Homo sapiens: one gene and its partners. The protein of the gene in region 1 interacts with the protein of each later gene in a biochemical or structural test. Each region holds a gene or a part of one and is shown on either strand. Other genes may lie near its edges.

Region 1 (7,576 bases):
TGTTTATACTCTTCATCCCTATGGGTTTGTACCTGTCCCTGTTTATCTCTGCATATTTATCTACCTACATAAACAACTTCAAAAGCCAAATATTCTACTGTTTACCTCACATCCTCAGCTCTTTCCTTTCCTTCACCATTCTTTCTTATTTATAGCTTGTTTTCAGCAAGGAAAGCTGCTCTCATGAATAGCAAACCCCAGCCACACTGTTGATTGACAAATCTCTACAGATGGATAAGGATTACAGCATGATGGTTATGCAACTCAAGATCCCCTAGCCCATCTTTTCTTGTTTTCTTTTCAACTGGGGGTGCAGTAAGGCGGTGTTAAAAATGCAGGCAAGCTATTCCTTTGAATAAAAGCGGTATCTGGGATTTAGGTTTATAGGACTTCAGAGTTAGAAGGGTGCCTGGGAAATCATCTAGCTTAGAAACTCTATTTAACAGTTTGGGAAACTGCAGCCTCAAGAGAGGAAGTGTCTTTCCCAATGTCAGGCACTGGGAGTTAGAACACACTTTTTTTTTTTTTTTTCACCCTTGGCCAATGCTTTTCCTACATAGAGGGCACAACAGTCTTGGGAAATACACAAGAAGTTCCCCAAATCAAAATGAAGATAAACAATATTATGATTTTAAAATTTTTCCTGTCAGTACTTCTAGTAAAGGAAAGTTCTATACAAACCCCAAGATGATGGAGCTGCCAGGAAAAAAAAAAAAAAAAAAAGCTGAGAATGATTTCACTAGGTCTTTGGATGCCTTTAATCCATCAGTTCTAAAACCCTTTGCATTATGAGGGAATGCCACAATTCGCAAAGTGCTTCCCTGTGCATTATCCCATTTCTTCTACACACTATCTACCCCCTAGAGGTGGCTGCTGTTACTGTTCTTTAACTGTAGAGGGAATGGGGCCCAGAAAGAAGTATTAGTTCAAGGTCAAATGGTACCTTCAGGGCACAGCCAGAGCTAAAACCCAGGTCTTCAAACACCCTTGCAAGGAGATTATCATGGCCCAAGGCTTCCCCGGAATCCTGAGAGATCACAAGGGCAGGGCCTAGAATTTGCTGCAGGCCTTGAATTTGGGGGTGGGGTACGTTCAGACTGATGTTCTTAGAGGGTTTCAAGGGTCCCCTCCAGCCAGCAGGCAGAGACCCTGAAAAAAAGGTTACCGTGGCAACTCGCATTCCTCGGAGAGTGAGTCAGGCAGAGAAGAGCCTTCTGGTGGGTGGGACTTGGAGAAAGTTTCAAAAGTTGATTCCTTCTCCAGGCAACCCCCTTCTTCTCCTCCCTCCCCCTCTTTGCTCTAGGCTATGTCGATGTGGCAGCTGATAGCTGAGAGTTAACTCTCTCTTTCCTCAACCACTCCCTTTTCAGAAGGCTTCATCCTCCAGCAAATACACACATTTGTTACCAGTCCTCACTCCATCCCCACGTCATGCCCTCTAATCCATTTGAGAATATCTTAAAGCTGAAAGCTGTGACCACCCATATTCATCCTCTCTCTCTCTCTCTCTCCCTCTCTCTCTCACACACACACACACACACACACACACACACACACAGTGCATACAATTTTTAGGGGCTTAGAGATGGCTTGAGGCCCATTCAAAGACCACTCCATAGACCCTGGTTAAGAAATCTTCCTTTGAATATTTTAGAGGACACAAAGCACCCCAAAGAGCCTTCAGTTTCAGCCTTCTTTCATTACAGATGGGGCACTAAATCCAGGGGAGACACTTACCTAAGATCACACATAAAATGCATGCCCGAAGCCTGTGTCCTACTTCTGCTTTGCTTCTCACTAAACCACCAGCACTTGGGGCGTATAGAAATTTAACTCTAAAGCATTACTAGAGAAAACATTTTCTCTAATGAAAAAAATGCTGTCCTTTCCTGAGGAAAATGCATGCCTCTCTGTTCCCTTTTGGGCAGACTGGGAATCCTGGAAGACATAACTCATCCCAGTGCCCCCCTTCCCTTGGAGTCCTTGGAGTCCCTTTCCCTAAGGAAGTCCACTTGACAGCCAGTTCACGGAGCCAGTGGCGGCGAAGAAAGGTAGTGGATTTGTCTGAAGAAGAACTGACACCCTGACAGGCTGGACACTAGTCTTGGGTGGATTACGGAAGGGGACCCTGGAATTCTCTCCCTCTTCCCTTCCCCCTTTCCCCCTTCTGAGAATATCTCCCCCAGCACACTCCACCTCCCATTACACCCATGTCTTGGTTGACGATATCTGATGTCTGGGTTTTCAGATCTAGATAAACTAAGGGCTACTGCCTGTGTTTACCATCCCAAGGAACTCAGGACAGGAACAACACCTAACCCAAGACTGAGGTTGTGATGGTGCCATTTCAGGCAGAATGGTGCTGAAATTTGTGTATTGGGGGGACGGAAGGTGGTGTTTGGGAGTGAGGAGAATTAGAGGAAAACAGAAGGCTTCCCAGAGGTGTGGATTAATGGTGAAGCCTCCCCCTTTGCCTTTCAGAGATCAACTGATTGTTCGTGCAAAGTCCCTTTTGGAAAACAGAACCCCTGACCGAGATCTGGAGGACAGACTCCGGTTGCTGGCCAGGTCCCTGTGGCAGCTGTGATGGGATCAGATTCCCAGGAAAGGAGGAGGCTGCCACATTTGCAAAGGGAGCAAAGAGGACAGGCAGGCAGCCTCTGAAACCAGAGACAGACACAGAGAAAAACAGAGAGTGAGAAAATGCTCCCCCGAAGACATAGTGAGATTATTTTCTGTAAACCTGTAAGGGAAGACAAAGTTACACAGTGAGTCCACCTTCTGAAAAGCAACAGGCAGACAGGACCGAGGGCCATGCTCTTAAGGGGAGCCGTGATGGAGCCGGGAGGAGAGGCGCATCCTCAGCAGAGCTTCCCTCCCTTGCACACGAGCTGACGGCGTGAACGGGGGTGTCGGGGTTGGTGCAACTATAGAAGGGAAAGGCTGGGCGGGGGTCACACATACCTCAGTGGCAGGCAGGCAGGCGGCAGGCAGAGCGCGCTCTCCGGGCAGTCTGAAGGACCGCGGGAATGTGGAGGGGTTTAGAGACAGGCAACAGGAAACCACTCAGAGCTCTGGGCTGGGTCTATCTCCCCTCCACCCCGTGGTCCCTCCTCCTCCTGTCTCCTCCTTCCCCCGGCCTCCTCCTTCTCCCATAGCCAAAGCTGTCTCTGTCTTTCATTTCTTTCCTCCTCTTTTTGCGGTGGGCTGTCCTGACCAAACGTCCCAACCCTGCCTGCCTCATCTGTTCCGGGGCTGCTGCCTAAACCGACTCACAGAGTGCCAGGGCTGGACAGGCCTGGAGGGATGACCCAGAACAGCCTCTTTCTTGTTCAGAGGGCAAGTGAGGCCTGGAGACTGCAAGGAATTACCCAATGGCCCCCAGGGGCAGAACCAGGCCCAAGTGTCTTGATCTTCTAACCAGTGAGCTTTACAGGAGTCCTCCCTAATATTAGGCAATGCTGAGAAGGGCCAAGCAATTCAAGGGGGTTGTATTTGCCACAAAGGCAAGGCCAGGACTTACCACTGTACAGACAAGACAAGCTGCTACTAGTGGTATCATCCTTGATGATTTGGAACTGGTCTTAAAAAAAAAAATCCCACTCAAACTCCACTTGTACCACTAATAGACACATAAGGGATTAGACATCTAGCTGGTGGACCTGTGCCACCAGTATTGAACAGATAAGGTAATTGATGATATTGATGATAATCATAGGAGTAACAATAGCCAAAGTTTACTGAGGATTTAATAATCTTCACAGCAACCCCTTATCTTAGGCATTGTAATTATGACCATTTTAATAATAAGGAAACATAGATGCTAAGTAACTTGCCTATGATCACCTGGCAAAAAGTGGTATGAGAGGGCTGATTCTACGTTTCAACTTGGGTCACTCCTGTTATATATGAACTGCTCAGTGCAACAGGTCTTGGTTGAATGTTTATTTTGTGCCTAACACTCTGGGAGGTATGAGAATTAATAAATACCTGGTCCTTGTCCTCAAAAAGTTTTGTGGTTTCCGGTTTTTTTGTTTGTTTGTTTTGTTTTGTTTTGAGACAGAGTCTCACTCACTCTGTCGCCCAGGCTGGAGTGCAGTGGTATGATTTCGGCTCACTGCAACCTCTGCCTCCCGGGTTCAAGCAATTATCGCGCCTCAGCCTCCAGAGTAGCTGGGATTACAGGCGCACATGCCACAACACCCAGCTAATTTATTGTATTTTTAGTAGAAATGGGGTTTCAACATGTTGCCCAGGCTGGTCTCGAACTCCTGAGCTTGGGCAATCCGAATGCCTTGGCTTCCCAAAGTGCTAGGATTACAGGCGTGAGCCACCGCACCCAGCTTAGCTTTGTGGTTTCTTAAATTCTTTTTTAATTTTTTTAGACGAGTTAAGTGCAGAACTGAGAAGGGAAAAAAAGTACAAGGAATTCAATCTGTGACTGTGAACAATCAATCGAGATAACTCACTATTCAAGGAGCTTTGGATCTTGCTGAAAGGTTGTGCCTTACACATACACCCACTTACATGAGTGGTACAGACTCTAAGGCTTATCCCAGGGCTTCAGATTGGTGGATTCCTGAAAGAGGTGGACCTGGAAGCATGGGTTGGGTTTGAATACCATGGAAAGGAAGAAGGCAGAGAACACCCTCATGATACACTTCCATCCGCTGTGGCCCCTGTCTCTCTTGCCATTCTCTCCTCCTACCACTGTCCTCTGTGCCCACGCTGCTCCAGCCATGCCAACTTCCTTCCAGTCCTTCAACTACCCCAAAGCTTCTCCCACCCCAGGATTTTTTTTTTTTTTTTGAGACAGACTCTCACTTTGTTGCCCAGGCTGGAGGGCTGTGGCGCAATCTCAACTCACTGCAACCTCCACCTCCTGGGTTCAAGTGATTCTGCTGCCTCAGCCTCTCAAGAAGCTGGGATTACAGGCATGCACCACCACACCAGGCTAATTTTTGTATTTTTAGTAGAGACAGGGTTTCACCATGTTGGCCAGACTGGTCTCGAACTCCTGACCACAAGTGATCCGCCCGCCTTGGCCTCTCTAAGTGTTGGGATTACAAGTCTGAGCCACCATGCCCAGTATCTTTGCATTTGCTCTTACCTCTGCCAGAGACACTCTTCCACCTGATTTTCCTGTGCCTATTCTAATGTCACCTCCTTAGGGCCACTCAATCTACTTGCCTCTCTCACAGGCACAGTTCATCGCCTTACACTGTTTTATTTCCTCCCCATCACCTGTCATTCTCAGAAACCATTTGTTTCCCCAACTAGACAGAAGCTTGGTGAGAGCAGGGACTTCACATGTCTGTTTACTGCTTTGTTCCCAGCATGTTGACCAGTGCCCCACACAAAGCTGGCTTGCAATATTTTATTCAATAAATATATGAACTTCCGACTTGCCCATCTGAAAAAAGAGAGGGTTGTCTTTTACTAGGGTTCCAGCCTGGAACACTGCCCCACACCCAAGAGACCCTCAAACCACTAAAGTGGAATATAAAAGTTAGGGTGTTTGGTCCTTTTGAGAACCTAAAGGAAGCAATGAACTTTCTCTGCAGAAAAATCCACAAACACCCAAGAAGGAGTCTTCTCCAAATGACCCCCAAGGGCCGGGTGCAGTAGTATGTTCCTGGAGTCCCAGCTACTCTGAGGCTGAAGCAGGAGGATTGCTTAAGGCCAGAAGCCTGAGACTAGCCTCGGTGACAGAGCAAGATGCTGTCTGTAATAATAATAAAATAATAATAATAATAATAAGGCCAGGCATGGTGGCTCACTCCTGTAATTCCAGCCCTTTGGGAGGCTGAGGCAGGTAGATCACCTGCGGTCAGGAGTTCGACACCAGGCTGGCCAACATGGCAAAACCCTGTCTCTACTAGAAATACAAAAGAAATTAGTTGGGCATCATGGCACGTGCCTGTAATCCCAGCTACATGGGAGGCTGAGGCAGGAGAATCGCTTGAACCCAAGAGGCGGAGGTTGCAGTGAGCCGAGATGGCACCATTGCACTCTAGCCTTGGAGACAGAGCAAGACTCCGTCTCTAAATAAATAAATAAAGACCCCCCAAGGCCTCTCACCCTGGTTCAAAAGCCAAGTGCTTTTGGCTGCTGAATACAGGGTGCTGGTGGACTCTCCACATATCTGTTTTGCCATCCGGACAGATGTATATTTTTATAGGATTGGTTGCTATAGCTCCCAGGCATTATGGGACTAAAATTAGCAGAAGCTTTGTATTTTTATTCATAAACTAAAATGATGATTCTGATGAGGATGAACCAGTGGAACTCTTCCCAGTTTTTGGCTGGTGTTCCCATGTGGCTTTCAGTTCAGGAAGTGGAAGTCTGGTTGGGGCTGGGCTGAAGCTCTGGAAGAGAGATCCCTCCTGAGGGCCACTTCCAGGTCTCTGTGGGGACACCCTGAGCCAGAATCACTCCCAGAAAGAAAACTTGGTAGGTTTTATATCTAAGGATAAGAGCACATGGCTGGGTGCAGTGGCTCACACCTGTAATCCCAACACTTTGGGAGGCAGAGGTGGGTGGATCACCTGAGGTCAGGAGTTCGGTGACCAGGCTGACCAACATAGTGAAACCCCGTCTCTACTAAAAATACAAAATTAGCCAGGCTTGGTGGCTCACGCCTGTAATCCCAGCTACTTGGGAAGCTGAGGCAGAACTGCTTGAACTCAGGAGGCGGAGGTTGCAGTGAGCTGAGATAGCACCATTGCACTCCAGCCTGGGCAACAAGAGTGAAACTCCACCTCAAAAGGCAAAAAAAAAAAAAAAAAAAAAAAAAAGCATCCTGGGGCAACAGGAGCCTCTGAAGCAAGGATGACTCTGACCTAGAAAGGAAGACCACTAGGACTAAGGCTGGTCTTCCTGCCACCTGCCAAGGGCTTTATAGGAAGGGAGAGAAGCACAACGCAGCCAGGTGTGATAGACCTGGGTGTGAGTCCCACTCTGCTATTGAGTCACTGAGTGACTTTGGGCCCATCCCTGCCCCTCTGAACTACACCTTTTCTTTCTTTCTTTTTAATTGTGTTAATAGAGGCAAGGTCTTGCTAGGTTGCCCAGGCTGGTCTTGAACTCCTGGCCTCAAGCAATCCTCCTGCCTTGGCCTCCCAATGTGCTAGTATTACAAGCATGAGCCATTGTACCTGACCCTACACCTTTTCATTTATAAAATAGGTTGGACAGCAGAATAGTAGTAATAAGAGCCAGCATTTATTAAACACCTACTATGTGCCAAGCACCTGCTAAGCTCTTTGCATATATTGTCTGACTTAACTCTTATAAATCTGGAACTGTTATTATTCCCATTTTATAAATGTGGAAAATGAAGTTCATATCAATAATTTGCTCAAGCTTATGCACCAAGTATATGGTAAATCAGAGATTCAAATCCAGGTTTAAGGGACACCAGAGCCCAAGTGCTTGACTACTGCACGCTACTTCCCCCTCAACTCCTCTCCAGCTCTGACATACGTGGACTTCAGACCATACACCCCTCTCCCGAGTCAAGAATGTTGCTGATCCAACATTAGGCTGAATCAGCTTTTCATCTTGTAAAGCAATC
Region 2 (7,028 bases), on another chromosome or scaffold:
TTCAAAATATACAAAAGAGTTACGATCTAAAAGAGAAATAGACTAATTTACAGTTAAAGTTGGACACATCACCATTCATCCACAGTAGTCAATGAAGGAGGAGACAGACAATCAGTAAGGATACAGAAGAACACCAGCAACCAACTTCACCTAAATGACCTTGAGGGAACACCCCACCCAACAACCGCAGAAGACACATTCTTTTCAAGAGCACATGAAACATTCACCAAGATGGCTATATTCTGAACCATAAAACAAACCTCAACAAATCTAAAAAAACTGAAATCATAAGGGCAGGCTTTCTGACCACAATAGCATTAAACTTACAAAGCTACTGTATATTGTGATGATGCCACTGGTATACAAAAATAAGGAGAAAACTTGGGCCCTCAGTAAGCTCCCATACCCTTGCTTACCTGTGGGAGCCAATTGTTCCGTGGATACTGGGGAGGAGTCACAGGACGGTATCTTACAGTACTCCCACCGCACTTGGCTGTTGGTTGTATGGCACCATGGGGCCCTTTTTCCGTCAGGATTGCGGCAGTAGTTTTCATCCAAATTTCTGAAAAAGAAGTGATTGTGAGTTTAGCTTTCCAAAAAGAAAAAAGTCTAGGGAACCACGCTTTGAGAACAACCGTTACGGGAAAAAACGTGCTAAAGTTCATTTCCTTTACTTATGACTAGATCAGTTTTTCTTCCAGAATACTTTATCCTGCGTTCCTACAGTAACTAAAACTAAGGCAAAGTCAATGGGATTTCACATTCCATAGCAGCAGAATGAGACCGGAGGGGACTTACTTGCAGGGGAAGTTTTCTGGTGTCCTGTTATGTGTGTGAGGGGTCTGTGCACTCCAGTGCTGACAGGTGTGCCCGGACACGGTAACAGCCACATTCCCGCGATAGTTTTCACCTGTTCCCTTCAGACACTGGTAGGTGGGACCAGAAGATGGTGGAGGTGTTGCTTGAATGGGCAAAATAAGTTACAATGAATATATATATTTTTTGAGACGGAGTCTCGCTCTGTCGCCCAGGCTGGAGTCAGTGGCACGATCTCAGCTCACTGCAACCTCTGCCTCCTGGGTTCAAGTCATTCTCCTGCCTCAGCCTCCCGAGTAGCTCAGACTACAGGTGCGTGTCACCACAACTGGCTAATTTTTTTGTATTTTTAGTAGAGGTGGGGTTTCATCATATTGGCCAGGTTGGTCTTGAACTCCTGACCTCGTGATCCGCCCACCTCGGCCTCCGGAAGTGCTGGGATTACAGGCGTGAGCCACCGTGCCCAGCCCTACAATGAATAATTTTAAAATAGAGAATGCACAGATGGATGTTAAGGAGGATGGCTGCAGGGTGTTCTGGCCTGTCTTGGCTTTTGCTCAGCCTCTCTTGGAATTTGGCACTTGAGAATTGTTTCATGTTTTCAGATGAAATCAATTTAGTAGCATCTATGCCTGTGAGACCCTTTCACAAGGAACTCCTTCAGAGAAAGACCCTTGGGTAGGTGCTTCTTTCTATGTTCTCTTTGCTCAGTTCTTCCTACCTGGTAAGTATCAACACGTGTCACCTCACACCCCGAATTCTCACATACACCAAAGGTCCACTCTCTTTCCTGAAGAATAAATTATTCACTGAGTAGACATGACTGAATGGCACCCAACATGCCATAAAAGCCAAACAACAGGGAAAGAGTCCATGGAAAGAAGGCAAAAAACACCTCCAAGGAAAAGTGTGTGCATCCAGAAATCAAGATATTCTTGAGGAAAAAAGATGACAAAAAGAGAAACTGAAAAAAAAAGAGAAATTAATATTCATAAAAAGGGAGAATGCCTGAGGAACTTCCGCTTTCAAAGGACACATGTCAGAGGAAAGGAGGGGAGGCCAACCCTCACTGAATCCTTTTTAACCTTTCATGCCTGTATTTCTCTTAGTGTGTAATCCTTTGCTTCAAATTCTCAGAGAGGAAAATATGATAAAATTGTTTACTCCACATCATTTCTACTAGGTCTGCCATTTCATCTTCTCCTCTTGAACTCTTCCCCACCCCCACCACTCACCCTCTGCTCCCCAAGGTGGAAAAACTGGACACCCACAGACCTGAACATTGTAAACAAAGACACTCTTTGTTTACAAAACAACTATTAGAACTCTGGTTGAAAATGAAATCCATGTGTCAGAGAGCATGGGTCTGATTTCCCTTTAGCACAGAGAGAATAGGATGAACAACACCTAAAGCCTACATTTCAGTGAACTCCTGAGGCAGAAGTTTCAGTTGCAAAGAAAGAAAAACATGATAAATGGACGCTCTGATCAATCACCCACAGTAACCAATAACCATAACTGTTTTAAACCAGCAATAAAATAAAGACCAATAACATCCCATAGGACTTGTAGGTCACTTTTCAGAGGCTGCACTCAGGCACTGACACATGTTTTCTTTTGATTTCAAGAACAGGGCAGGTCCAAATCCTGGAATCTGGGTGTGCATCATACTCACTGCAGCGGGGGATGTCACAAAGTTCCCAGCGCTTGTTGGGGTCGGTGGTGAAACACCAAGGCCGCAGCTCCCTATCGGGGTTACGACAGTAATTCTTCTTCAGGTTCTTGTTTGGAAATCTGAATGGACAAGAAAGATTTTAGTAGCACTGAACATTTACATTCATGGATAAGACTCTTTTTCAAGAGCAAACATTGAGCACCTGCTGTGTGCTAGGCACAGTCGGGCATGGAGGAGGTAATCAGATGAAGGCTGTGTTCAGAGATGGCAACAAGGAAACAAGGTTGGCCCTGTATTCCAAGGACTTTCTTTTTTTTGTTTGTTTTTAGAGACAGGGTCCCACTTATTGCCCAGGCTTGCCTTGAACTCCTTGAACTCACTCAAGCAATCCTCCCGCTTCAGCCCTTTAGGTAACTAGGACTACAGGCATGTGCCACCATGCCCGGCTGCCAAGCACTGTTTTTCTAACAGTTTACATGTGTAAAAATCACTCAACAGAATCAGTGACCTTATCATTTTGGCCATCTGGAAAATTGATGTAAGCAAATTCCAGTTATTCAACCACAAATGATAGCAGTCTTTAAAATGTAAAGTGCTCCCTGCCTAAAGATACTCATCTAGTACCTAACAGAGCCAAGAAATGTGCATCTTCATAGCTTAAAGGAATGGTCCTTCTGGTCTACCAGGCTCTGCTCCCACCAGCCTTGAAGCTTAGAAAAACCAAGAGGAGAAGCTGTGCTCTTGCAAGGGTCTCACCATGCAGTATGGGGCTGGATCCTTCCTCAGTGGGGCCCAGTGGCCAGGGCTGTTGGATGCACTCCATGCCTGGTGGCCCTCTGCGTTTATTCATTCCCTCTCTGATTGTAAATGCTTACCAGGATGGAAAGAGGAGCCAGCAGCGGCTTAAGCAATCCTCTTCTCCTTCTGGTTTCCTGGAAGTGCCTTTACCCAGTTTTGGACCCTTAGGTCTTTCCTGTATTTCTCCTTTGAAGGAAAATGGCAGCTGCTGTGTTTTAAGCTAGCTATTTGGAATGGGAGGTGTACAAATTCAATAGAGCTGCTTTCCACCGTGGAATCTGTGGCTCAGCCTCACTTCTGCATTCTTGAAAGCCCTGGTATGGCCCTGTAGTCATCATAGAATGAAGAGGAAGACCAGAAGCGACTGTGGAATGGGAGGTGTTTTCCAGCACAATTAATGTGAAATAGAATACTCACGAAACCTTATTCTAGGAACCATCATGACTTTCTAGAGCAAGAAGCTTATTCTTATTTTAAATTCGTGGTCCCCTTAGAGAATCTGATGGAAGTTACGAATCCTCATTCCAGAAAAACACATTGATGTAAATATACATAAAACATCAGGGATTCAAAAATCCATGACGTCTGCTCATAGGTCAAAGGTTAGGAGACTTGAATCTCATTGGTACAAAGGGAAAAGAAAGACAAGGAGTAAAGAGAAAAGGAAAATATTTGGAAAATACACCAGCAACATGTGTGTGTGCATTTCTGAAGACAGATGTTAATGTATTCATTACTGACATTAGTGTTTGAATGTGTGTGCACATCAGCTGAGGATCTGGTTATTATTCAAATCAGATTCAGAGGGTGTGACATTCTGGATTTCTAACAAACTCTCAGAAAACATCCCTGCTGCTGACCCGTGGACCATATTTTGAGCAGCAAGAATGCGTATTTCACTTGCAATATTGTGGGAGGAGGTTAGCTTTGAAATTAAAAACATCAGGCGTTCACTTCTTGAGGAATGCTAAAATATCTAAATGACAGCAAATGTCTGATAGAGCTGCAGAGCCTTAATTAAACATGGAATGTTTTTCCCAGTGAGACTTACTTGGAAGGAATGTATCCATGAGCGTGTGGGCTCTGAGAGTCCCAGGCCTGGCATTCCAGTCCAGACATGGTCTTGGAAATTTTGCCGTCATAGTTTTCTCCACTGCAATGCATACATTCCTCTGGACAGAGTGGGAAGGAAGGACAGAGAGGAAGAAGAAAACTGAAATGGATGAAGCAAAATAGAGAGTAAAAACCAGAATCCTACTCACTTAAGTGCGACTTGCCTCTCATTCCGATGTAATTCACAACAGGCACTTGGCAATAAAATTGGCAATAAGGACTCAGGATTTTCTAGCATAATCCAAATGTCATTTTCCTTTTAAACCGTAACATTCACATATTTTAGTCAATACTCCCTCAACTATTGTAGTCATGACCAAGTTCAGAATTTCCATGATGCCATGTCCTTAGACCGGGATGCACAGGCCAGTGGGGAGCCAAGGGTGCATATATTCCCAGGAGTCTACGTTCTCCATTAGGAGTTTTCAATATTTGGCATCTTCATTTCAATAATGATCTTTAAAACTTTGTATGAAATTATTCTGATCATTCCGCTGACTGCTGAATGACCTGGCACCGTCTCAGGGTTTTAGTCTGGAGTTTTTGTTTATGCTCATGGCCTCAGGGAGAACAATATTCACCTGAAGTGACAGCGCTTCTCTTTTTATGTTGTTGAGAAGCATGATTGGCTCTTTTTTGCAAAATTATTCACAAACTTAAACTTTGATTCAGAATTATTGAAGTAACATGGTGAGGCAGAGTAATATGTGACTTAAATTTTATGGAGTACTAAGGAAAACGGGCAGACTTAATATAACAGTGATGCATTGGTGGTGCTTAAGGGCAAATACCTATAACATGGTGTACAAATAAAGGATCCCCGTGATTCGAACAGGTGGAAGTGATGGGAGAACTGAGTTGTCACACAGTACCATATCCACACTGTCACACAAATCTCACCTTTATTTATTCCCTTTTGCACTAATGTAGCCAGAAATGTGAAACGATGACAGTTTTTTCAGTAGGATTTTTTTAAAATTTTTTAGCATTGACCTTTGAGGTGCACTATTAAATTGCTCAGTCCATTCAAATAATGGATTGCTGATTTAAAAACTGGTTCCTTGCTTAGCTTCAGCAAAACAGCAAAGTCTACCACATTAAATATATATTGTTTATTTGATTTTTATTGATTTTGTTGTTTTATTTTAACTATTTAATTGCAAACCTGTCTTGGGGTTAACACTGTGTAAGAGTTGTAAGCATAAGAAGTTTGTACTTAGAGTTTAGATGTAGTTTTATATTTGTACATGTTGATGTAACATTTTAATAAAAATAATTCAGGTCTGCTGGGCATGGTGGCTCATGCCTGTAATCCCAGCACTTTGAGAGGCTGAGGCAGGCGGATCACCTGAGGTCGAGAGTTCAAGACCAGCCTGACCTACGTGGAGAAACCCTGTCTCTACTAAAAATATAAAATTAGCCAGGCATGGTGGCACATGCCTGTAATCCCAGCTACTTGGGAGGCTGAGGTAGCAGAATCTCTTGAACCCGGAGGCGGAGGTTGTGGTGAGCCGAGATTGCACGGTTGCACTCTAGCCTGGGCAACGAGAGCAAAACTCTGTCTCAGAAAAAAAAAAAATTCAGGTTAATTCTGGGGTTTTGCTTCTTTCCGAGAGGTGAATACGTTACTCAATTATTAATAACATCCCTGTGGGAAGGGGCTTTACAACAAATTATTTTACAGGTGAAGGGCAGAAATGAAAACATTTTCTAGAACCACTCCTGACCTTCACACTCAAGAATGTCGCAGTAGTCATATCTCTTTTCTGGATCAGTAGTATAGCACCAGGGCCCCTGCGGATCGTTGTCTGGATTCCTGCAGTAGTTCTCCTCCAGTCCCTCTGAGGGGTGTGTAGCAGGTGAGAATCTGGGGAGGATGGAAAAGAAGCACTTAGACTATATTCTAAAAATCAGCTTGCTATTAGCAAGGCAGAAGGAGATGCTCTCGATTCCCATCTGAGATTGTCATCCAAATGCATTTCAGCTGGGTGCTGCAGCATTTGTGTGGTCAGATTTTCAATTTCTCTATTGATAGGCTGCTTCTGGCACAGTAGCTAATATTACCATTGCTACTGTGACAGCCAAGTCTTAGAGAGCCAAAATATTTTTATTGCACAGTCAGGAGAAATATAAAGGCCTCAAAAGGCTGCCATGGTCTTAATTCATTCCAAACACCTGCTTTTGTCAGTTACCGTTTTCTCTGTAAAAATTTTTGTAGTTAATACCATTTTGTCCATGTGAACTATCTGCCAGGAATTCCACTAACATCTTTCCACACATTCTCTCTTTTAGTCCTAATAAAACCATTTGAGGAAGGTGTTATTATCCCTATTTTACAGATGAGAAAACTGAGTGGCAACGTAAAACAAAACAAAACAAAACTTGCCTAAGTGTAAATAGCTATGAAGAAGCAGATCAAGAATTCAAAGTTGATCTGTCTGATTCCAAAGTCCTGGTTTTCTCTGAAATGCAGCTTGAATTATTGGGGATGGAGGAGGGATTTAAGCTTATTTTCAGTTCTAGAGATGAGTTGCTGTATAGAGACAACCATTTAGATGAAAATCACAAGACTTACAGTCTAGAAAGGCAGGTTTTATTTCTGGTTCTTCTGTGAACCTATTTGGGA
Region 3 (7,028 bases), on another chromosome or scaffold:
GCTGGGGTACCTGAGTGGGGTGCATTTGGGGTGTGTGGGAAGGAGAGGGAAAGAAAGATGGACAGTGGGACTCTCCCCTAGCAGGGTCTGGTGTTCCGTAGGCTAGAGTGCCCCTCTGCTCTGCGAGTGCTGGGCGGGAGGGGAGTTGGTGAGAGCTGGAGACCCCCAGGAAGGGCTGGCAGAAGCCTTTCCTTTTGGGTGCTGTCAGGTCCGCATGTCTTGGCGTGTTGACCTTCACAGCTTCTGGCGAGGGGAGGAATGATCTGATGCGGGTGGGGAGGGTTAGAGGAGGCCTCAGGCCTAAGGTGGTGCAGGGGGCCCCCTAGGGGCTGGGCAGTGCCAAGGCATAAAAGCCTTCCCTGGTCCCTGGTGGCATTTGAAGGTGCCCAGGTGAGAGGGGCTTGGCACCTCCTCACCCTGGGAGGGAGAAGAAACCAGGGAACAGGTAGGAGTGGGAGACAGGTGAGGCTTTGGAAATCTATTGAGGCTCTGGAGAGATTTGTGTAGAGAGGAAAATGTGGTTCTCCCCCAGGGTCTCCTCCTGGGTTTTTACCCTCTAAGCAACCTGTGGGCATGCTGGGTTATTCCTAAGGACTAGAAGAGCTTGGATGGGGGAGGGTGGTTGGTGCCCTTCGGTCCTCGGCACCCCCCTCCGTCTCCAACACCAGCTCACCCTGGTATTTGTCATGTCAGCAGGAGAAGGTCACCATGTTGTTTTTCTCGCCCCTAGTCCTTCCTTCCTGCCCCAGTCCAAATTTGTCCTCCTATTTGACCTTAATACTTACCATGGCTTTGGACCAGGGAACTAGGGGGATAGTGAGAGCAGGGAGAGGGAAGTGTGGGGAAGGTACAGGGGACCTCGACAGTGAAGCATTCTGGGGTTTTCCTCCTGCATTTCGAGCTCCCCAGCCCCCAACATCTGGTTAGTCTTTAACTTCCTCGGGTTCATAACCATAGCAGTCCAGGAGTGGTGGGCATATTCTGTGCCCGTGGGGACCCCCGGTTGTGTCCTGTTCGACTCAGAAGACTTGGAGAAGCCAGAGGCTGTTGGTGGGAGGGAAGTGAGGAGGGAGGAGGGGCTGGGTGGCTGGGCCTGTGCACCCCAGCCCCTGCCCATGCCCATGCCTTGCTCTCTTTCTGTCCTCAGTGGTCCCAGGCTGCACCCATGGCAGAAGGAGGAGGGCAGAATCATCACGAAGGTGAGTCCCCCTGGCTGTTGGATGGGGTTCCCTGTCCTCTCAGGGGATGGGTGGATGGCCTAATTCCTTTTTCTTCAGAACTGTGGGGAGGAAGGGGAAGGGGCACAGGAATATAAGGATCAAGAAAGAAAGAGCTGGGCACCACGAGGTTCACCCTCAGTTTCGTGAGGACTCTCCGCTGTTCAGGTCTCTGCTAGAAGTAGGACTTGTTGCCTTTTTCTTCTGCTCTTTCCAGTAAAATTTTATTTGGAGAAGGAGTCGTGCGCACAGAGCAGGAAGACAGTGTTCAGGGATCCTAGGTGTTGGGGGAAGTGTCCCTTGTTTCCCCTAGCTCCCAGGGGAGAGTGGACATTTAGTGTCATTTCCTATATAGACATGTCCCATTTGTGGGAACTGTGACCCTTCCTGTGTGAGCTGGAGGCACAGAGGGCTCAGCCTAATGGGATCTCTCCTCCCTTCCCTGGTTTGCATTCCTTTGGGGGTGGAGAAAACCCCATTTGACTATGTTCGGGTGCTGTGAACTTCCCTCCCAGGCCAGCAGAGGGCTGGCTGTAGCTCCCAGGCGCCCCGCCCCCCTGCCCAACCCCGAGTCCGCCTGCCTTTTGTTCCGTTGTGGTTTGGATCCTCCCATTTCTCTGGGGACACCCTGGCTCTCCCCACCACTGACTGTGGCCTGTGCTCTCCACCTCTGGGGAGGGAAGGCCCTGGGGTCTTCCTTCCCGCGAGTTTCCCTGACCTAAATCTGGCGTGGCTGGGTAGTGGCCAGCAGTGGTGATGCCCAGCCTGTTCTGCCTCCTCCTTCCCCACCCCAGGAGCCCTTTCCTTGGCCTAGGACCTGGCTTCTCAGCCACTGACCGGCCCCCTGCTTCCAGTGCGCCACTTACCCCTTCCAGCTTCCCAGTGGTCTCTGGTCTGGGAGAGGCAGGACAAAGGTCTTTGTTTGCTGGAGAAAAGGTTGTCTGCGATAAATAAGGAAAACCACGAAAGCCTGGTTGTTGGAGTGTACGTGTGTGCTCCCCCAGGCAGTGGAGGCCAGCCCTCCTTGGAGGGGCGGCTGCCTGATGAAGGATGCGGGTGAGGTTCCCCGCCTCCACCTCCCATGGGACTTGGGGATTCATTCCAAGGGGAAGCTTTTTGGGGGAATTCCTACCCCAGGTCTTTTTACCCTCAGTTACCAACCCCTTGCCCAGGCCAGACCTTCCTGCTATCCCCTCCTGGGCCACAAGCCTGGCCCTCCTCTGTCCCAATTGTGATGAAGGGGCAGTTCAAAACTTCTTGATTAGTCATCTTCTCCCCTATCGACTTGGCTTTAAAAAATGACCTTTTCAGACTTCTAGTCTCGTTCACTCTTTTTGATGATGCTTTGCCGTAACCCTTCGTGGGTAGAGAAGGATTCTGTGCCCATTGGTGGTCTGGATAAAAGAAATAGAGACCTCACAGGAAGCAGTGGACTGGCCTGTTTCCCCACTGTTCTTTCTGTTTTCACACCTGTGGCCTTCTCCCCACCTTCTTCCCAATCAACCTATTGTGTACATAGCCCCCCTCATTGTCCTTTATTCTTCTGGAAAGCAGACCTTGGAGGGAGGAGTGAGGGGGAGGCTCAGCTGTGGTCTCTGGGGGGTGGGGGTTGGGAGCTGGGGTGGAAGTCCACGAAGCATACACTTAAGATGCTTTGGTGAAGTTCTAAACTTCATATTACCCAGGCTGAAAAAAGAGCACTTGTTCCTAGGGCTGGAAATGGAAGCCAAAACACCACCTTTTTCAGCCTGTTTCAGCATCTTTAGAGATCAGCCCAACCCACTTACACAGTTGAGCAGAGTTGGAGGCCTAGAGAGGGGAGGGACTGGCCCAAGGTCATACCAACTCATGGCCAGAGCCTGGGCCTCCTCACTGGCCAGGTGTTATTTCTTCCCTCTGGGTAGGGAACCTATTTCAGGGACAGGATTGCTATGTGGTAGTGGTGGTGGGGTGCGATAGGCGTGGCAGGCTGGGCCACAATTTGGAGTAGTCATGCCAGAGTCCTGCATTTATTTATTCTCAAGGGCCCCGCCTCTGTGGCCCAGAATTACCCCTTCATGCTCCAGTGCACCCCAGGCTTCGTGGCCAGCCTGGGAAACTGTCTCTACCCTGGTCTCCCTTCAGATCAGCTTCTAGAAATGTTTCGTGGCTACAGTGGCAGCACTGTTTTTTCCATGATGCAAGCAGTTTGCCCTCTTGGGCGGGGTTATCAGTGGCTGGCAGGGCTGGCACAGCGTGTCCGCCCACTGCCACCTGTGGGTTCCAGGAGGGCCCAGCCCCTGTGCTGATGCCCACCACCTTCTCAGCTCATGTCTGGGGAAGAGGACTGGCAGGGGGAAAGGTGCCTCCTCCTGAAAGGTGCCTCCTCTGTTTTTGCCTAATATAGGCTTGGGAACACTTTGATGTCAGCTAATTCTGACTCCTTTACTTACTAGCTGTGCGGCCTTGGGGCAACTTACTTAGCCTCTTTGAGCCTCCTGTTCCCCATCTGTAAAATGGAATCTCAATAGTGTCTAATAGTACCATGTGGAGAAACTTGTGTGAAATGATAGCTGTGGACTACTGTACACAGTACTCAGGATGTAGTAAGTGCTCAATAAACAGCTGTTGGTATGGTTGACGTTATGGTAGTGGTTGTGGGGAGGACGTAGGAAACTGGAGACTAGCTTGGCAAAGCTGGCTCTTCCTCCTTTTAGGGAAAGCTTAGAGCATCCCCATGGGGTATACCCATACTCAGACTGTCCTCTGGCATCGAGGTTGGCCCAGGATTCAGTTCAGCTGTCACAGTGAGGTGGCGGGATCAGATGTGGCAGGCCATGTCCCTTGGAACTTGAGTACATCGTGTGATCTCTGGAATGAAAACAGGCCTTCACCAGTGTTGATGGTGGAAAGCTTAGGGAAGTGCTTCAAACACAGTAGGAGGGACTTACGTTAGATTTTGGAAGGACTTGCCTGATTCGGAAGCTCCAAAGAGTGGCATTACAGAGCTGGGTGGAGAGAGGGGCTAGCCATCTTTTGTGTCGCCCACCGGGCTCATGTGTCATCGCCTCTCATGCAGTGGTGAAGTTCATGGATGTCTATCAGCGCAGCTACTGCCATCCAATCGAGACCCTGGTGGACATCTTCCAGGAGTACCCTGATGAGATCGAGTACATCTTCAAGCCATCCTGTGTGCCCCTGATGCGATGCGGGGGCTGCTGCAATGACGAGGGCCTGGAGTGTGTGCCCACTGAGGAGTCCAACATCACCATGCAGGTGGGCATCTTTGGGAAGTGGGGCAAGGGGGGGATAGGGAGGGGGGTAACACTTTGGGAACAGGTGGTCCCAGGTCGTTTCCTGGCTAGATTTGCCTTGTCTGGCTCCTGCCCCTGAGTTGCACAGGGGAGGTATGGTGGGGTCTTGCCTTCTGTGGAGAAGATGCTTCATTCCCAGCCCAGGTTCCCAGCAAGCCCCAACCATCTCCTTCTCCCTGATGGTTGCCCATGGGCTCAGGAGGGGACAGATGGATGCCTGTGTCAGGAGCCCCTCTCTCCCTCTCTTGGAGAGAGTCCTGAGTGCCCCCCCTTCTTGGGGGCTTTGTTTGGGAAGCTGGATGAGCCTGGTCCATGGAGAGTTTAAAAAGTCTTTTGGTGTTACCTGGTAATGGGGCACATCTCAGCCCAGATAGGGTGGGAGGGAGCTGTGAAACACAGGGAGGGGGTTGCTTTCGGGTATCTACTAGGAGTCAGGGTGAAGCCTAGAGAGGATGAAAGAAGGGGAGGGGATGGGGAGTGGTAAGAACCTAGGATTTGAATTCCCAGCCTGGCCAACCCTTGCAGCCATGTCTTGGCCTCAAGTGGAACAAGGGCTCCTTGAGGCCAGCAGGGTTGGGGGAGTTGGGGTGGGCCTGAGCCTCTTTCCTGCTAGAGCTCTTGGTCCTCCCTGCCTCCACCACCCATCCCTGCTCTGCAGAACCCCTGGGTGCTGAGTGGCAGGAGCCCCAGGGTTGTCCCATCTGGGTATGGCTGGCTGGGTCACTAACCTCTGTGATCTGCTTCCTTCCTTTCCAGATTATGCGGATCAAACCTCACCAAGGCCAGCACATAGGAGAGATGAGCTTCCTACAGCACAACAAATGTGAATGCAGGTGAGGATGTAGTCACGGATTCATTATCAGCAAGTGGCTGCAGGGTGCCTGATCTGTGCCAGGGTTAAGCATGCTGTACTTTTTGGCCCCCGTCCAGCTTCCCGCTATGTGACCTTTGGCATTTTACTTCAATGTGCCTCAGTTTCTACATCTGTAAAATGGGCACAATAGTAGTATACTTCATAGCATTGTTATAATGATTAAACAAGTTATATATGAAAAGATTAAAACAGTGTTGCTCCATAATAAATGCTGTTTTTACTGTGATTATTATTGTTGTTATCCCTATCATTATCATCACCATCTTAACCCTTCCCTGTTTTGCTCTTTTCTCTCTCCCTACCCATTGCAGACCAAAGAAAGATAGAGCAAGACAAGAAAAGTAAGTGGCCCTGACTTTAGCACTTCTCCCTCTCCATGGCCGGTTGTCTTGGTTTGGGGCTCTTGGCTACCTCTGTTGGGGGCTCCCATAGCCTCCCTGGGTCAGGGACTTGGTCTTGTGGGGGACTTGTGGTGGCAGCAACAATGGGATGGAGCCAACTCCAGGATGATGGCTCTAGGGCTAGTGAGAAAACATAGCCAGGAGCCTGGCACTTCCTTTGGAAGGGACAATGCCTTCTGGGTCTCCAGATCATTCCTGACCAGGACTTGCTGTTTCGGTGTGTCAGGGGGCACTGTGGACACTGGCTCACTGGCTTGCTCTAGGACACCCACAGTGGGGAGAGGGAGTGGGTGGCAGAGAGGCCAGCTTTTGTGTGTCAGAGGAAATGGCCTCTTTTGGTGGCTGCTGTGACGGTGCAGTTGGATGCGAGGCCGGCTGGAGGGTGGTTTCTCAGTGCATGCCCTCCTGTAGGCGGCAGGCGGCAGACACACAGCCCTCTTGGCCAGGGAGAAAAAGTTGAATGTTGGTCATTTTCAGAGGCTTGTGAGTGCTCCGTGTTAAGGGGCAGGTAGGATGGGGTGGGGGACAAGGTCTGGCGGCAGTAACCCTTCAAGACAGGGTGGGCGGCTGGCATCAGCAAGAGCTTGCAGGGAAAGAGAGACTGAGAGAGAGCACCTGTGCCCTGCCCTTTCCCCCACACCATCTTGTCTGCCTCCAGTGCTGTGCGGACATTGAAGCCCCCACCAGGCCTCAACCCCTTGCCTCTTCCCTCAGCTCCCAGCTTCCAGAGCGAGGGGATGCGGAAACCTTCCTTCCACCCTTTGGTGCTTTCTCCTAAGGGGGACAGACTTGCCCTCTCTGGTCCCTTCTCCCCCTCCTTTCTTCCCTGTGACAGACATCCTGAGGTGTGTTCTCTTGGGCTTGGCAGGCATGGAGAGCTCTGGTTCTCTTGAAGGGGACAGGCTACAGCCTGCCCCCCTTCCTGTTTCCCCAAATGACTGCTCTGCCATGGGGAGAGTAGGGGGCTCGCCTGGGCTCGGAAGAGTGTCTGGTGAGATGGTGTAGCAGGCTTTGACAGGCTGGGGAGAGAACTCCCTGCCAAGTACCGCCCAAGCCTCTCCTCCCCAGACCTCCTTAACTCCCACCCCATCCTGCTGCCTGCCCAGGGCTCCAGGACACCCAGCCCTGCCTCCCAGTCCAGGTCGTGCTGAGCAGGCTGGTGTTGCTCTTGGTTCCGTGCCAGCTCCCAAGGTAGCCGCTTCCCCCACACCGGGATTCCCAGAGGTTCTGTCGCAGTTGCAAA

Evidence for each region. The genes of interacting proteins can lie anywhere in the genome.
Region 2: the proteins of SPARC (region 1) and PLG form a complex in vitro, tested with the Homo sapiens proteins (one study listed by BioGRID).
Region 3: the proteins of SPARC (region 1) and VEGFA form a complex in vitro, tested with the Homo sapiens proteins (2 studies listed by BioGRID, with this or other methods).

What each region holds. Positions count from the first base shown.
Region 1 is NC_000005.10:151,683,901-151,691,476, forward strand, and holds the start of SPARC (SPARC isoform 1 precursor), read right to left. Parts: upstream 3,016-7,576; 5' UTR 2,965-3,015; exon of another isoform or gene 2,482-2,964; intron 2,052-2,481; exon of another isoform or gene 1,929-2,051; intron 1-1,928.
Region 2 is NC_000006.12:160,712,227-160,719,254, reverse strand, and holds part of PLG (plasminogen isoform 1 precursor), read right to left. Parts: intron 6,270-7,028; coding exon 6,130-6,269; intron 4,462-6,129; coding exon 4,341-4,461; intron 2,611-4,340; coding exon 2,492-2,610; intron 962-2,491; coding exon 799-961; intron 563-798; coding exon 417-562; intron 1-416. UniProt on the Homo sapiens protein: Plasmin dissolves the fibrin of blood clots and acts as a proteolytic factor in a variety of other processes including embryonic development, tissue remodeling, tumor invasion, and inflammation. In ovulation, weakens the walls of the Graafian follicle.
Region 3 is NC_000006.12:43,773,194-43,780,221, forward strand, and holds part of VEGFA (vascular endothelial growth factor A, long form), read left to right. Parts: intron 1-1,147; coding exon 1,148-1,199; intron 1,200-4,275; coding exon 4,276-4,472; intron 4,473-5,266; coding exon 5,267-5,343; intron 5,344-5,695; coding exon 5,696-5,725; intron 5,726-7,028.